Linked DNA regions of Homo sapiens: region 1 is linked to region 2. A link means that fine-mapping ties the variant in region 2 to the expression of a gene that starts in the linked region. Tissue or cell type: lung. Region 2 holds a variant in brackets; the other region holds the start of a gene. All regions are shown on one strand. Distances are between the middles of the regions.

Evidence for each region. PIP is the estimated chance that this variant, and not a neighbour inherited with it, causes the effect.
Region 1: CIMAP1D starts here. The variant in region 2 is fine-mapped to the expression of CIMAP1D in lung (GTEx, PIP above 0.99).

The regions. Positions count from the first base shown.
Region 1 is chr19:473,598-476,275 of GRCh38, reverse strand. CIMAP1D (CIMAP1 family member D) reads left to right here and starts at 1,293. Exons shown (of 4, transcript NM_182577.3): 1 at 1,293-1,655. The coding sequence starts at 1,529.
Region 2 is chr19:388,872-391,549 of GRCh38, reverse strand. No RefSeq gene overlaps it. Among named protein-coding and RNA genes, the nearest start is that of SPMAP2, 14 kb to the right of the region's middle. RefSeq lists enhancers at 1,538-2,102, 2,103-2,668. The variant G/C (reference allele first, on the strand shown) is at 1,209.

The DNA.
Region 1 (2,678 bases), 85 kb before region 2:
TGAGGCCATCCTGGCCAACGTGGTGAAACCCCGTCTCTACTAAAAATACAAAAAAATTAGCTGGACATGGTGGAGTGTGCCTGTAATTAGCTACTAAAAATACAAAAAAATTAGCTAGACGTGGTGGTGCATGCCTGTAATCCCAGCTACTCGAGAGGCTGAGGCAGGAGAATTTCTTGAACCCTGGAGGCGGAGGTTCCAGTGAGCCGAGATCGCGCCACTGCATTCCAGCCTGGGCGGGGGAGCAAGACTCTGTCTCAAAAAAAAAAAAAAAAAAAAAAAAAAAAAATTAGCCAGGCGTGGTGAAACCCCATCTCTACTAAAAAATATAAAAATTAGTCAGGCGTGGTGGCGGGTGCCTGTAATCTCAGCTACTCAGGAGGCTGAGGCAGGATAATCGCATAAACCCGGGAGGCAGAGGTTGCAGTGAGCCGAGATCGCACCAGCGCACTCCAGGCTGGGTGACAGAGTGAGACTCTGTCTCAAAAAAAAAAAAAAATTACACTGCAAAAGGCTCCAAAAAATACAGAAACAAACAAGGAAGAGACAGGAACGTGCATCTCATCTGGCAGTTTTCTGAGCCTCTTCTTGGAGCCTCACGCAGTGGTCGCCTTGAATGTATCAAAATCCATTGTGGTTTAAATCTCGGAGGCATCTGGGAGGCAGTGAGGACGGCTCTCACCTCCCCGCTGTCCTCGCCGCTGCCCCAGGGCCTCTGCACGGCTGCCTCCTCACCTGCTTTGGGACTGTTCAGTTTTACCTTCTCCGTGGGGCTCACCCACACCCACACTGCTACCCTGGGCCCCAAACCTGTCTGCGTTTTCCCTCACGTTCAGTGCCTCCTCATACACCAGACTGTGTTCACTTATCACATTTACTGACGACTTTCTCTCTCCCATCCTGAGAACATCTCCTTCTTTTCCGTCTGTTCGTGTCCAGTTCTCACCACCCCCAACAGAGGCTGGTACACAGTAGGTGCCCAGTACATGCTTTGGCAGGAATGAGTGACAGGATGAGGCAGTGAATGCTTCTTGGCTCAGAGCTGAAACTCCCAGAGTTGTGTACTTGCTGTATGACCTTGGGCTGTGCCTCAGTTTCCCCAGGTGTAGAAACGGGGCCACGCCACCCACGACCCCGCCAGGCCCTCCTGCTGCAAGGCTGTGGGTGTCATGTTTGCAGGTCTAGTTCCCTGGGGCCGGCCCTGGCCCCAGCTGCCCAGCTCTGCCGGCTCCCGGGAGACGCACTCTGCTGACACCGGACTCTTTCCTGGACCATCCAGCCGCCTGGCCGACACTCGATCCCGGCCCCACTTCCAGGCCAGTGTCCGGCCGACCAGCCTGCCTTGGGCCAGGGCCCCACGACTCCCTGCTGCGGGACAAGAGGCCGTCTGTGCGGCTGTGGTCGTGGGAGGGTGTGGTGAGGCCGTGAAGGTGGGGACGGTGCCTGGGCCTGTGGCCGCCAGAGCTGCTGCGGCTCAGAAGGTAGCACCAGGCCCCGTGGGTGCTGTGGGGGCCATCGCCTGCCCACCATGGGGACCCTCAGCTGCGACTCCACCCCACGGCTGGCCACAGCCCCCCTTGGCCGGCGAGTGACGGAGGGCCAGATTCCGGAGACCGGCCTGAGGAAGTCCTGTGGGACGGCCACCCTGGAGAACGGTGCGTGCCAGCCGTGGGGGATGGGTGGGACCTTTTCCTGCTCCACTCCCCATACTTCTGGGGCTTCTGGAATGTTCTGGGAGCCCAGCAGGAGGCAGGAGTTTCAGGCAAGTCCTTGCCCTTCCCCAGACCTCAGTTTTCCTTCCGGCAGGATGGGTGTGGACACGGGGTTGCCGTGAGCCCCGAGTATGTGTCTGTCCAACGGAAGCTGCGTGCTTTGCCAGCCGGGTCCCCTTCCAGGGGCTGTGGGTACAGCAGTGGGCAAAGCCACAGCGATCATGCGGGAGACGCGGGGAGGAGGGAATATTTCCAGCGTGGCCCTCAGGGACGGGCGCCCTAGACAACGTGGGGCAGGGCGAGGGGCGCGTGTGCGGAGGCGGCTCTGCTGGGAGCCACATCAGCTGCTGGCCTCGGTGAGGGCCCAGGACGGGCCGCAGTTTCCTCACCCACAATTAGCGGCTGGAGTCAGGCCCCAAGCCAGGTCCTCGGGCTGGTTCTGTGGTCTCTCCTGATCCCTGTGGCATCGAGATTCTGCAGAAGCCACAACACATGGCGTCTGTGACCGTGTATCTCTGGGAGGCTCAGGCCTCAGTCTCCCCATCTGTGATCGTGTATCTCTGCCTGGGCCTCAGTTTCCCCATCTGTGACCGTGTATCTCTGCCTGGGCCTCAGTTTCCCCATCTGTGACCGTGTATCTCTGCCTGGGCCTCAGTTTCCCCATCTGTGACCGTGTATCTCTGCCTGGGCCTCAGTCTCCCCATCTGTGACCGTGTATCTCTGCCTGGCCCTCAGTTTCCCCATCTGTGACCGTGTATCTCTGGGAGGCTCAGGCCTCAGTCTCCCCATCTGTGATCGTGTATCTCTGCCTGGGCCTCAGTCTCCCCATCTGTGATCGTGTATCTCTGCCTGGGCCTCAGTTTCCCCATCTGTGACCATGTATCTCTGCCTGGGCCTCAGTCTCCCCATCTGTGACCGTGTATCTCTGGGAGGCTCAGGCCTCAGTCTCCCCATCTGTGACTGTGT
Region 2 (2,678 bases):
CCTGCAGAGTTGGGGTCTCTGTAGGAGGTAAGGTGGGGGGCTGGCCCAAGACTCTATGCTTTGAATATTGTTTTCACATCTTTTAGTTTTGATATCATTTTGACCTTACAGGAAAGTGGCAAGATTACTTGTCATACAGCAGGAACTCCCCCTGACTCTACCCAGAGTCACCAGCGGGCTGGATTTTCCCCATTTGCTGTGTCATCTTCGGTGTCTGTACCTCTATCTGTATCTACAGCCACCTGTTATCTACATATGGTACAATATTCATATTTATACACATTTTCAGAACCATTGAAGACTATGCTGGAGGTGCAATGCCCACTTCCTCCTAAACATATCAGCGTATCTTTTCTAAAAACCAGGATTCTCTTTTATAACCCTGGGGCTGTTGTCAACATCGGGAAATTCCACATCCACACAACGCTCAGATCTAATCCGCTGCCTGCATTTAAATCTCACCGGCTGCTGTGGTGATGTCCCACTGTGGGTGGGGGGGCCTTGCTACCCCAGCAGGTACCATGGCAACAGATGCTGCTGGCCGGGCCTGCAGTGGAGCAGCGTGGGCTGGGAGCCAGCCAGGGCGGGGGCCGGGGCGGGGGCCGGGGGGCCAGGCCTGGAGGTGCCGCTGGCCCTGGGGTCGGGTTAATGGCACCCTGAGGACCACAGAGTGAAGCTCCTGGGCCTCTCAGACCACTTGGCCTTGGCTAAGGGTTGAGAAGGGTTCTGAGGCCTTGCCAGGGCTCAGAGGGAAACAGTGTGGCCCTCAGCATTCGGCTGCTGATGTCTGCCTCAGGCTGGCCATGGCGTGGGCGCAGTGTGCTGTGTGTCTGTGTCCAGCCCTCGTGTGCACAGATGAGGAACGGCCTCCTTCTGAGGCTCTTGGCAAGCGCGGAGGAAGCAGAGCCCGGTTGCCCAGTCCGCGGGCTTGACCGCACCCCAATGCTGGGGAGAAGGGGCTGCCACATCAGAGCTGCTCACAGCCGGGCCCTGGGGAGCCACCGATGTCCCTGCACCTCCGCGTTCCCATCTGTGACAGGGAGCAATGGTGGCTGCACCTTCAGGGCTGCTCGAGGACTCGCCTCAGTGTTCCCATCTGTGACAGGGAGCAATGGTGGCTGTCTTGGTGTTCCCATCTGTGACAGGGAGCAATGGTGGCTGTGCCTTCAGGGCTGCTCGAGGACTGAGTGGGAGGATGTTGCTACACG[G/C]AGTTTTGTTGATGGCATCTGTAGTTGTACAGTGACCCTACTCTCAGGCTACATGGGCTGCATCTGTTACAGCCATGGGTCTGCATTGTTCAGAATCATGTCTTGGAGGCCACGCTCTACCCACCTCTGTCTCCCATTACCGTGGGGTCTTGGCCTGCGCTGCTCTAGAACCCCAACCCCAGCTCAGGCCCCAGGAGAGAAATGGATGGGTCCCCACAAGCCAGACCGCGGCCTCCCAGAACCAGCTCATGGGGGATACGGGAGCGAGCAGAGACGTGAGGGCAGGAGCCACGGGCAGGGCACGTGCAAGAGGCCAGTGGTGGACTCAGAGGACAGGCAGACACACGGAGGACAGAGAAAGAGGGAGGGGAGAGAGAGAGAGACAGAGAGACGGAGAGGGGCATTGCCCTGTGTCTGGAGGGGAGGGGCTTGTCAAGGGCTGGGTTGGGGGTTGGGGCTGCAGAGGGACTGGGGGACTCGTCCCAGCCTCTCCTCCAAGGGCATCTTGGGCTGTTCCCCAGAAGCCGACTCTTTGGGCTGAAAATAGACCTCACAGCTCAGACACTGTCTCTGCAGCCACCTGGTGGCCCCTCACGCGTCCCCAGCTTCCCCGGAATGCCGAGTGTGTTGGTGAATTTTTTGTGTGAACTCGACTGGGCCGCAGGATCCCCAGAAGTTTGGTCAAACATCATTCTGGGCAGGTCTGTGAGGATGTTTTTGGATGAGGTGAACATCTGCAAACCACCCGCTCTTAGGAACACACCCAAACTCTGCTGTCGTGTTGAGGGTTTCATTACCATGAGTAAATCTGGGATGAATATTCATGTGTGAACGTCACTGACTACGTGCTCTGTGACATGTTTGGACACATGTGTCCCTCCAAATCTCATGCGGAAATGTGACGCCCAGAGTTGGTGTGAGGCCTGGTGGGAGGTGCTGGCTCACGGGGTAGATCCCGCCTGCAGGGCTTAGCCCATGCCCTTGGTGACACGTGAGTTGAGTTCTTGCTCACCTGAGAGCTGTTTACGATTGCGGCACCTTCCCCCTTGCTAACTCTCGCTCACCTGAGAGCTGTTTAGGAGTGCGGCACCATCCCCCGTCCTGCCTGTTGCTCACCTGAGAGCCATTTAGGAGTGCGGCACCGTCCCCCGTCCTGCCTGTTGCTCACCTGAGAGCCATTTAGGAGTGCGGCACCTTCCCTCTTGCTCCCTCTCACCCGTGACACACCAGCTCCCTCTTCACCTTCCTTGATGGGTAAACCTCCCCGGCCTCCCCAGAAGCGGCCCAGAGGCCGGTGTCACATTTCCTGTACGGCCCGCAGAACCGTGAGCAAATGAACCCTCTTCGTTATGAACGACCCAGCCTCAGGGACCTCTTCATAGCGACACACTCCACAAGACAGATGACTGGGGGTGAAGATCCTGGGCCCAAGGACGGAGCATCTGTGATGCAGGTACCTGCCGCCCAGTT